3 linked regions of the Homo sapiens genome follow. The protein of the gene in region 2 purifies or fractionates together with the protein of the main gene of each other region. This does not show direct contact. Each region holds a gene or a part of one and is shown on either strand. Other genes may lie near its edges.

What was found.
Region 1: the proteins of RTF2 (region 2) and TENT4B purify together in Homo sapiens (affinity purification with mass spectrometry, with the first as the bait; one large-scale study listed by BioGRID). This does not show direct contact.
Region 3: the proteins of RTF2 (region 2) and CBS fractionate together in Homo sapiens (co-fractionation; one large-scale study listed by BioGRID). This does not show direct contact.

The regions. Positions count from the first base shown.
Region 1 is NC_000016.10:50,156,298-50,159,947, reverse strand, and holds part of TENT4B (terminal nucleotidyltransferase 4B), read right to left. Parts: intron 1-3,650. UniProt on the Homo sapiens protein: Terminal nucleotidyltransferase that catalyzes preferentially the transfer of ATP and GTP on RNA 3' poly(A) tail creating a heterogeneous 3' poly(A) tail leading to mRNAs stabilization by protecting mRNAs from active deadenylation.
Region 2 is NC_000020.11:56,513,590-56,516,900, reverse strand, and holds part of RTF2 (replication termination factor 2), read right to left. Parts: intron 3,106-3,311; exon of another isoform or gene 3,064-3,105; intron 2,817-3,063; exon of another isoform or gene 2,596-2,816; intron 1-2,595. UniProt on the Homo sapiens protein: Replication termination factor which is a component of the elongating replisome. Required for ATR pathway signaling upon DNA damage and has a positive activity during DNA replication.
Region 3 is NC_000021.9:43,058,686-43,062,335, forward strand, and holds part of CBS (cystathionine beta-synthase), read right to left. Parts: coding exon 3,626-3,650; intron 1,862-3,625; coding exon 1,756-1,861; intron 619-1,755; coding exon 541-618; intron 284-540; coding exon 149-283; intron 1-148. UniProt on the Homo sapiens protein: Hydro-lyase catalyzing the first step of the transsulfuration pathway, where the hydroxyl group of L-serine is displaced by L-homocysteine in a beta-replacement reaction to form L-cystathionine, the precursor of L-cysteine.

The sequences.
Region 1 (3,650 bases), on a different chromosome or scaffold from region 2:
CAGCCTGGGTGGCATAGCAAGACTCCGTCTCAAAAAACAAAAACAAAACAAAACAAAAAAAACAAAGAAAGTTAAGTTAGTTGAACACAGTATACTAAATTTTGAGACATTCTTAAATATGAATTATATTGTTAGTGTACAATCTACACTATAGAAAACCTAATGTCTTCTTAAAAGCGCATGTCAGTACCCAAATCAGTAAAATTCAATAACCTGAAGGTTCTAGTTCACTAAGAATTACTGTGGGCTATATCTGCAAATGCACAGAAATTAAATAGAGCACAAATCACTTGGAAAAAGGCCTCTAAATTCTTTCATATTCAATCTACTTTAATCTGTCTGATTGCTTTGGAGCCCAGCAGTAACACCAATCTCATTGGTAACACTGTGTAGAAATAAGCAGAGAGAGGCCGGGCGCGGTGGCTCATGCCTGTAATCCCAGCACTTTGGGCGGCCGAGGCAGGTAGATCACCTGATGTTGGGAGTTTGACACCAGCCTGACCAACATGGAGAAACCCCATCTCTACTAAAGATACAAAATTAGGCATGGTGGCACATGCCTGTAATCCCAGCTACTTGGGAGGCTGAGGCAGGAGAATTGCTTGAACCCGGGAGTCAGAGGTTGCAATGAGCCAAGATCGCGCCACTGCACTCCAACCTGGGCAACACAAGTGAAACTCCGTCTAAAAAAAAAAAAAAAACAGAAAGAGAGAGAGAGGGAGGGAGCGAGAGCGAGAGAGAGAGAGAAAGAGAAGCAGATATAAGCCCTAATGCAGTGCTGAAAAAAGGCATGAACATCTTGGGCTTACTATGACATGATGAACAATGGGCACTAGAGGATGGCACATACAAGAGGATACTGCCCTACGGCAGTGAAGAGCACTACATCTCAGCCCTCCAAATCTCAGCTCCCCACTAGCAGGTCCACCTATACATCCCCCTACTATCTTCTTACCCAAACCAATAGTCCTTCTGGCCCTTATTTCCAAAAACACCACAAATATTTCCCCAGTCACTCAAGTTCAAAGCTACAGTGTGATTATTAAATCCACTTAAGGAATCTGAATCATCTCCATCCTTACCCTGTAATACCTCTCACATTCATTCTCCCTTCACATCCCCATTCCCACCATCCTAGTTTAAGAAATTGTACCTTAAACCCAAGTTTCCCAACAAGGTCTTGATGTCCCCACAGCCAAATTTGTACTCCAAAACATTGTTTTGAACAAGTCATCCAAGCCTTAAAAAAGCATCTACAGATCTGGCAGTACAGCCAACAGAAACCTATCATGAGCTTGGACAAACACCAAGCACCTTCCAGAAGAAGTTTCTGGACCCAGGGCTCAAGACCAAGTTCTGCAAATTCCCTGTATTTGCTACTTCTTGCCATCCCCTCTTTCTCCATAGTGATAAACAATTAAGTCTTTCAAAAGAAAAGGGTTTATGGCTCGTTTTCATGGACAAGCAGCAGCAGGTGGACAGCATCCTAAACCATGGCCAGTTCTGGAGGGGAGCAAAGCCCAAGAGAATCAGTGGAAGCAACTTAAAACATAAAAGGCCAGGCCAGGCATGGTGGCTCATGCCTGTAATCCTGACACTTTGGGAAGCCAAGGTGGGCAGATCACTTGAGGTCAGAAGTTCGAAACCAGTCTGGCCAACATGGTGAGACCCCATCTCTACTAAAAATACAAAAATTACCTGGGCATGGTGGCGGGCGCCTGTAATCCCAGTTACTCGGGAGGCTGAGGCAGGAGAATTGCTCGAACCTGGGAGACGGAGGTTGCAGTGGGCCAAGATTGTGCCACCACACTCCAGCCTGGGCAAGAGAGCAAGACTCCCTCTCATTAATTCATTCATTCATTCATAATTAAATAAATAAATAAGGCCAGGCATGGTGGCTCACACCTGTAATCCCAACATTTTGCTAGGCGGAGGCGGGAGGATCACTTGGACCAGGAGTTGGAGACCTTCATGGGCAACATGACAAGACCCCATCTTTACAAAAAAAACCAAAATGAGCCAGGCATGGTGGCACTCGCCTGTAGTCCCAACTACTCAGGAGGCTGAGGTGGGAAGTTCACTTCAGCCTGGGAGGCCAAGGCTGCTGTGACCCATGATTATGACACTGCACTCCAGCCTGAGCGACAGAGCAAGACCCTGTCTCAAAAAAAATTAAAAAAATAAATTTAGGCCAGGCACAGTGGCTCACACCTGTAATCCCAGCACACTGGGAGGCCAAGGCATGTGGATGGCTTGAGCCCAGGCAAAGGCTGCAGTGAGCCGAGATCACACCACTGCACTCCAGCCTGGGCAACAGAGCGAGACCCTGTCTCCATAAAATTAAATTAAAATTTAAAAATAATAAAACACAAAATAAAAAAATGTTTTAAAAAGCAAACAAAATCCCTGGTCTGTGGGTACATGAAGAAGTCTGAGATGATGAGCTCAAGAGTTTTATTTTGAAGACTTTAGGATGAAATCCAATATCTTACTCTACATATTAAAGAAATGTCCATGTCATGTGTAAGAGGGAACACATAATAAAAGGAAAGTTAAACATAAGTGGGCTATACCAAGAGCATGAAGTGAGTACCTTTGAGAGTTCAGAGGAGAAACCAAAAACATCAAGGACTTAGGCAATGCAAGAGGTCAGCATTCTAAATAAATCAACCAATTTGGTGGAAGCAGAGAACACAAAAGACAGCTGCGAGAGACTATATAGCTGTCCCATGGTTCTAGTCCATTTTCACATGCTTTCTGGTCTCCTCTCCCCATCTGGACTATCAGTTCAGAGGCCAAGAACCACCACAATGTGTTAACCTATTAGCTAACTATCAGTCACATCTTAAGAATTCAGAAAACAATGGTAACAGTTTTAGTATATTTAATCTCAGAACAGCATAACATCGAGGTGCACTCTGAATTCAGATTTTTTTAAATACCTATATTAAAAATAGAAAAACTTTCTAAAGTTAAGAAATAAGGATACTGGCGAGAATGGTGGCTCATGCCTATAATCCCAGCACTCTGTGAGGCCAAGGTGGGAGGACTGCTTGAGGCCGGTTGAAGACCAGCCTAGGCAACAAATGGAGGCCCCATCTCTACAAAAAGTAAAAATAAAAAAATTAGGCAGGTGTGGTGACATGTGCCTGTAGTCCCAGCTACTCCAGGAAGCTAAGGCAGGAGGATCACTTGAGCCCAAGAGTTAGAGGATACAGTGAGCTATGATCACGTCACTCCACTCCAGCCTAGGCAGCAGAGTGAGACCCAGTCTCAAAAGAAAAAAAAGAAATCAGGATAATGAGGCCGGGCACGGTGGCTCATGCCTGTAATCCCAGTCCTTTGGGAGGCCAAGACGGGCAGATCACCTGAGGTCAGGAGTTCGAGACCAGCCTGACCAACATGAAGAAACCCCGTCTCTACTAAAAATAAAAAATTAGCCAGGCGTGGTGGCAAGCGCCTGTAATCCCAGCTACTCGGGAGGCTGAGGCAGCAGAATCGCTTGAACCTGGGAGGCAGAGGTTGCGGTGAGCTGAGATCGAGCCACTGCACTCCAGCCTGGGCAACAAGAGCGAAACTCCGTCTCAAAAAAAAAAAAAAAATCAGAATACATGAATCAAAGCAAGAATTTCTAAGCACCCAGACACTCT
Region 2 (3,311 bases):
CAGATTCACTCCACTTCAGCGTCAGTGTGGCTGCCCATTGTCCCGGGTGCCCTGTCTGACTGACCGATGCTAGTCACATGAGACAGACAGTCACTCTGAAGAAGGCTTTTGATGTTCCGTAACTCCTAAAGCCTTCACCCTCTGCATGTGACACCAGTCATGCACTTCTGCCTCACACAAAAATGTATCTGCACAGAGCTGCTCACTTTTATATTTACATCTCCCAAATCACATTTGCAAAAATTTAAATGAGGCTGACAGATTTCAGTAATAAGGGCCAATGTTGATGGTGACAACTGTATACAAAAGCGCACTTAAATGAGTAACACAGAGTATATATGGGTATGTGAAGTCCAGCCAGCATAAACACCAACTAAATCTTGCACATTCCACTAACTTTTTTTCAAAGCTGTCAAACTGCTTTGGTATTTGTTATTCAAGTGTAAGGCCTTGAAGTTTATATTAAAGACAGTTGAGCTAATTCTTCTAAACTCAAAACTACTCTTGTTAGATTTCCAGGCACTAGAATTCTGCTACTCATAATAGTTATTTTGATCAGCAATAATAAAACAAACCATTCTACGGTCACACAGCTGCGTTGGAATTGATTTAATCGCAGAAATGACAAGTAGGACTATGTTCATTTAATTTACTTTAAAATGTCAATTTCCTAAGCATCCAAAAGGTGGCACTAAAAATAGGCAGCCTGATTACTTCAGCCATCTCCCAGCACTGAGCATTAAAGAAAGACCTCTCAGGCCTTGAATTTCTAACATATACATGCAGTGTGATTTATAACAGAACATAAAGACCTTCTGTGCATTTCACACATGCAATGCAAGCATTCACATCTGTGAAAACTGATACTCGGTCCTTCAAACAAATAAGAGACAACTGTTTACTTCTAAGCCCTCCATTCACAGCTGAGGTTATTTGAAAAGCACAGGCAAGAAGGAGTTAGAGAGGAAATGTTATATCTTGCTTCCAGCTGCAAGTGTATTTGGGAAATATTTTGGTATCCTGGTAGCAGTAGCTATGAGGTATTCCCAGAAGCTCTGGAGAATATTTTGCAGAGAGGAGCATGTTAGTCCCACTGGGCTTTGAATTAACTTGGCAGGAAACCTGTGACAGAGAAAACTCACGAAAGCAAAATGGTCAAAGGGAATATGAACATTTCTAGTAGTTTCCTTTGAAATGCATTTTTTCCGTGTGTGTGTGTGTGTGTGTGTGTGTGTCTCTGTCTGAGACAGAATCTCACTGTGTGTGTGTGTGTGTGTGTGTGTGTGTGTGTGTGTGTGTGTCTCTCTCTCTCTCTCTCTCTCTCTGTCTGAGACAGAATCTCACTCTGTTGCCCAGGCTGAAGTGCAGTGGTACGATCTTGGCTCACTGCAACCTCCGCCTCCCAAGTTCAACCAATTCTTCCGCCTCAGCCTCTGGAGTACATGGGATTACTGGCGCACGCCACCACATCCAGCTAATTTTTGTATTTTTAGTAGAGATGGGGTTTCACCATGTTGGCCAGGCTGGTCTCGAACTCCTGACCTCAAGTGATCTGCTTGCCTCGGCCTCCCAAAGTGCTGGGATGAAAGGTGTGAGCCACGGCACCCGGCTGCCCTTTTGTGTTTTTTAAAACTGAGCTTGATCAATGGTAGCAATTAAGAACAGGGAGATGGCTTTTGGCAACTGTCCTTAGTTAAAAAGACCTCAAACTTAGTTTCCCTCTTTTTTTCTCTCTTACAATAATGAAATCATAGTAATTTAGAAAACCAACTTAGAATTAACACACTTTATATAAGATACACATGTATTTACTTTTCAACCTGAACACAGCATTTCAATGGCCAAGCGGCTTTTTTTTTTTTTTTAGAGGGAGTCTGTCAGGCTGGAGTGCAGAGGTGCGATCTCGGCTCACTGCAACCTCCGCCTTCCGGGTTCAAGTGATTCCCCTGCCTCAGTCTCCCCAGTAGCTGGCATTACAGGCACACGCCACCACGCCCGCCTACCAAGTGACTCTTTAAACAGTTGTTAGGAATGTTGTATTAACATCTTATAATATTGCTCCACGGAGTATTTCTACTCGCATCTGAATTCAGAGTTTGGGCACCGTTCCTTGAACTACAGAGCCATTTTCAGACATTATTTTCTACCTAAGTAAAACGATGAAGGGAGAAAATACAAATGCCTTTGGCTCTTTCTGATCATTCTGGATCCATGCATAATGGTAATACTGCTACCATGTGCTCAAGCCTCGGCTTTTTAAAGCCTCACAACCACGAATTACACATTATTCCAGGGTGATACGGTCCTGTCTTGTTATGATTTTTTAAAAACCCCAAACCTCTGAAAAATCTTCAGGTACTCCATCACTCTCGCCTCGGACTGGCACTGGTAAAATGCACACCCACGCGAGGGCAGGCGATTTGTTTCATAATTTTATGTCCTCAGCCTACTGGAGCTAATTTTCTAGTACTTCAAGCATTCTTTTGCCTTAGTTCTGATCACATAAAGTTTTCTCCCTAGCTTATCCTGAACCCAACTTTTTTTTTTTTTAAAGAATAAGAAATTTGCCACTCACGAAAGGCCTGTATTCCATAGCTATCATCTGTAAACATGAACAACATTTACTGCTGGATGGGGAATCACCAGCGCATGGAAGAACTCTTGGTGGATGCGTTGTCTGGAGCCTGCTCACTCCGCCACGTTACTCAGCAATGCTTTCCCTGTTTCTGGATACCACGCTCCCTTCTGAACGATGAAGCATGAAGCACCACGCTCCATAAAAGACCCTCCCTCTCCCCGTGGGAGGGCTCAGGAAGGTGAGGGATTTGGCCCCCATTTTTGGGAAGGCTACTCATTAGCTCCTTGTTATTCAAAGTGTGACCCTGAGGAGTTGCATCCACACGCCCTGGGAGTGGGTGAGACGCACAGGCACCCAGGCCCACCCAGGCCTGCTGGAGCCCAGACTGCCAGGGCCCTCCCGAGCACATTCCAATCTGGGCAGCAGGGGAGCCTTACATTTTGCTGGGATGATGGTGACTTTTCATTTTTCCTTTGTTTTACAAGCTATGAGACCTGAGTATGTACTGCCTTAAATCAACAGCAACAGTAAGTGACAGCAGCAGCAACGGTGGTGGCTGCCCTTCCCCAAGGGCTTGCTGAGGCCGTGTCAGTGTCAGTGCTTTATGGCCATGGTCTCTGGAGCCTGCTGACAGCTCCGTGCCCTCGCATGCTGTCACTACCCCACTTCACTGATGAGAAAGCTCGGCGGGGAAGAGCAGAGCCGCCGTGCTCACCACAGCAAGGCAGTGCCT
Region 3 (3,650 bases), on a different chromosome or scaffold from region 2:
ATGCCCTGAACGTCTGTATGAGGCGGCCCAGGCGGGCCTATCAGCCCAGCTGCAGGGTCTGCATGGCTGCCCTGTCCAGTGACACTGACGGGGTGGAGCTGGGCAGACAGAACCCAGGACTGAGCTCTGAGCAGGGGCTGAGACTGACCCCGCCTCATCCACCACGGGCGCCTGGTCGAAGCCCTTCTCCCGGAGGATCTCGATGGTGTGCCCACAGGTGATGGTCGGGAGCACGGTCAGCGGGGCTGACAGGCCCAGCTCCTGAACACGGAGGTGCCACCACCTGAGGGAAGAGGGCAGGTCGGGGGGATCAGGATAAGGACAAACGCTCTCGCACCCCCGCCGGCAGCACCTCAGCAGGAGGCCACAGGGACCGCTCTCCTGCCTGTCACACTGGGCAGGGCCAGCACAGGCCACGGGGACCGCTCTCCTGCCTGTCACACTGGGCAGGGCCAGCACAGGCCACGGGGGAGTGCTCTCCTGCCTGTCACACTGGGCAGGGCCAGCACAGGCAGCGGGTCTCCGGCCGAGCGGTCTTACCAGGGCTTCTTCTCCGTGAGGTCCTCCTCCTTCAGAAAGCCCTTCTGCAGCATCCACCTGTCGCTCAGGAACTTGGTCCTGCGGGATGGGGGAGTCACCGAGTCCCCGCAGGGCCCCACCGGGCCCCCGCCCCTGCTGAGTGGCACGCACTGCCTGCCCAGCCCCTCTCCTGGACCTCACTGGTGCAGCAGAGACCCCCAAGTGCTGGCTGGAAGCCCCAGGGGGAAGCCTGGGGGCTGGACTTCCCGCCCCCATGGCCAACAAGCGTGTGTGAGCATGCACACAGCCATCGCTCAGGCACTCAGATAAACACGTCCTCTCATGCTCGCTCTCTGCCCCTCACACACTCACACGCACAGGTACACATGGCAGGCTGGCCAAGTATGTGGGGAGATGGTGTTCTTGCACTGACGGGGGTGGGCAGGAGCCCTGCACAGGGCATCTTGACCCTGGGCACCAGATGTGAATCACCCCACACTGGGGAACCCAACTGGGGGCACCCACCAGCCAGGCCTGGCCCTCCAAGGGCAGCTGAGCTCTCGGGAGCTGTGTAGCCGCTGCAGCTTGCAGGCCATGGAGGAAACCCTGCAGGTGCAGGGGACAGGGCATGGGGGTCTGTAGACACCCGCCCTGGTACCGCCTCCGGAGACCAGGTGCAGAGCAGCGCCAGTCTCAGCCTGGCTGCCCGGTGACCAGCGAGGTCTGTGGCGTTACTGTCCGAGGGGCCTCTGGGCAAAACAGTCACAGCAAGTCCTAGGGGGCCACCTGGGCAGCACTCGGTCCCAATCTGGAGTTTGGGGGAAGCAGCAGAGGGAGTCAGGGTGGATAGGAGGTGGCACAGGGCCCGGCCCAAGAGGACGTCAGTCCATGTGGCCAGGGCTACCCGTTGGAGCTCACGGACCCCAGAGCAGTGAGGGGGACAGACACCAGAGAGGAAGGGACAGGAGGGACAGAGAGGGAGCCACCGTCTTTCATGCCCCTCCTGTCAGGGCTGTCACTGCGAGTGTGCATTGATTTTCACAGCATTAAGAGGCTGGGAAGCCCCACAGCGTGAGGGCACGTGGGCAGGAGAGTGGAGGCGGTGCTCACAGGGCCCCGCTGGCCTCCTCCCCTCCCAGTTCTGGCTGCCGGTTCTCAGGTGAGGCGTGAGAGGCATCCAGGGAAGGGTGGCAGGATGGAGAGGAGCAGGGACCTGGGAGGGAAGCCGTGTCTTACATGTAGTTCCGCACTGAGTCGGGCAGAATGACCACGCAGCGCTGGCCCTCCTGCAGCTCCTGCGCGGCCTTCACGGCCACCGCCACCGTGCTGCCAGCACTGCCACCTGCAGAGAGGGCCACGAGTCAGACGCGCCAGGGTGAGCGTGCGTGGGTGCACACGTATGCATGAATTGTGCACGTGCACGCATGGGAGCATGTCAGACACACTCCGAAGGATCCGTCAAGAGGGGTTGCCTCGGGGAGAGGGGCTGGGAGGACCCCACTTCTCCGTGAGCATCGGCTTCTTCCTTGTGCACCATGGAGTTTCTGTGTCCACTCGGGGCTTCATAATGAGCTGGGGTGGGCACTGGTGCCAGGGAAATGCCTGCAGTGGGGCTGCGGCCCCTGGCAAACCTCCTGGCCCTGAGCCTAGAGCCAGCGATGCTACGAGGACGGAGCCCCCAGCACCACGCCTGCAGGCTGCCTGACTGCACACTGGGCTCTGCTTTATAAACAAGAGACCAAGGCTCACAGTGACACCAGCTGTCCCTAGGAGCCCTGAAGTCAGAGTCAGAGGCGTCTTCTCTGGGCTTAGTTTGAGGGTGCACACAGCAGTCGGGAAGGTCTAAGTCTGCAGTAGGAGCCCCCACAGGAAGAGAGGCACCCTCCTCTGTAACGGGGCCCATGGACCTGCTTTCCAGCCCCAAAGGCAGGGGCTTGTTTCTCCACCAACATGGGGAGCAGGGAGACTGAGACAGGGAGAGCCCAACGATTATGGGCACCAAGTCACCTTTCGTGACAGATTCATCTGGAAAATGCTTTTCTTTTCTTTTTTTTTTTTTTGAGATGGAGTTTTTGCTCTTATCACCCAGGCTGGAGTGCAATGGCGTGATCTCGGCTCACTGCAACCTCCACCTCCCAGGTTCAAGCAATTCTCTTGCCTCAGCCTCCCGAGTAGCTGGGATTACAGGCATGCACCATTACATCGGCTACTTTTTTTTTTTTTTTTGGTATTTTTAGTAGAGACGGGGTTTCTCCCTGTTGGCCAGGCTGGTCTTGAACTCCTGACCTCAGGTGATCCACCCGCCTCGACCTCCCAAAGTGCTGGGATTATAGGCATGAGCCAACGCGCCTGGCTGGGAAATGGTTTTTCAATCAAGACTTTCTTCCAATCTCTAGTTTGGGGCTCAGCTAACGGGGGACTTGGCCATGCTGAGGGCTGGTTTCCTTCCACTTTCCCTGTCACCACCCCCAAAGTGACATGACACACGGAATGCACATGTAGAAACCTCACATGTCCCTGCCTGCGTTTTAGAAGCTGGTGTGTGCTCTCCGAGTCCCCAGAGGTCTAGATCAACTGTGGTCCCTACAGGGCCTCTGCTGCCTGTGTGGCTAGTCAGTGGCATTGCCAGCGGCCACCTGGTCTGTCCACCCCCAAGCAGGTGGGCAGAGGGGCACGGGGTAGGAGGAAGGTGAGCGGGGTCGAGCTGGACAGCCTCAGGCTCCAGTCCCCTCCCCAGCTGCTCCAGGGTGCTCGCAGCACCCAGTCCCGGCCATGGGCCCCGTCAATGCAGAGCCACCGCCCCAGGGGCCCTGGTGGACTTGATTAGAAACAATAAGTGCCATGAGAGCTTCAGCCTTGTTCTAGAAACACATTCTGGAAGGCAGCTCGAAGCCCCGCCCCATGGCCTCCTGCCCTCACCTGAGCAGGTGACCACACTGGGCAGGCAGACAACACCTGAGGCTCGTGGCCGCCGCAGTGACACTCCTCAGAACTGCTGTCTTACACATGCAGGTCGGTGGCTGACTGAGGGTGCGCCCCCAGCCATCCCCAGTGCCCCCTAGCCATCTCTGCCTTCCCCATACCCCCGTGCCCGCCACCCACTCACCGCACAGCAGCCCCTCTTGCGCGAT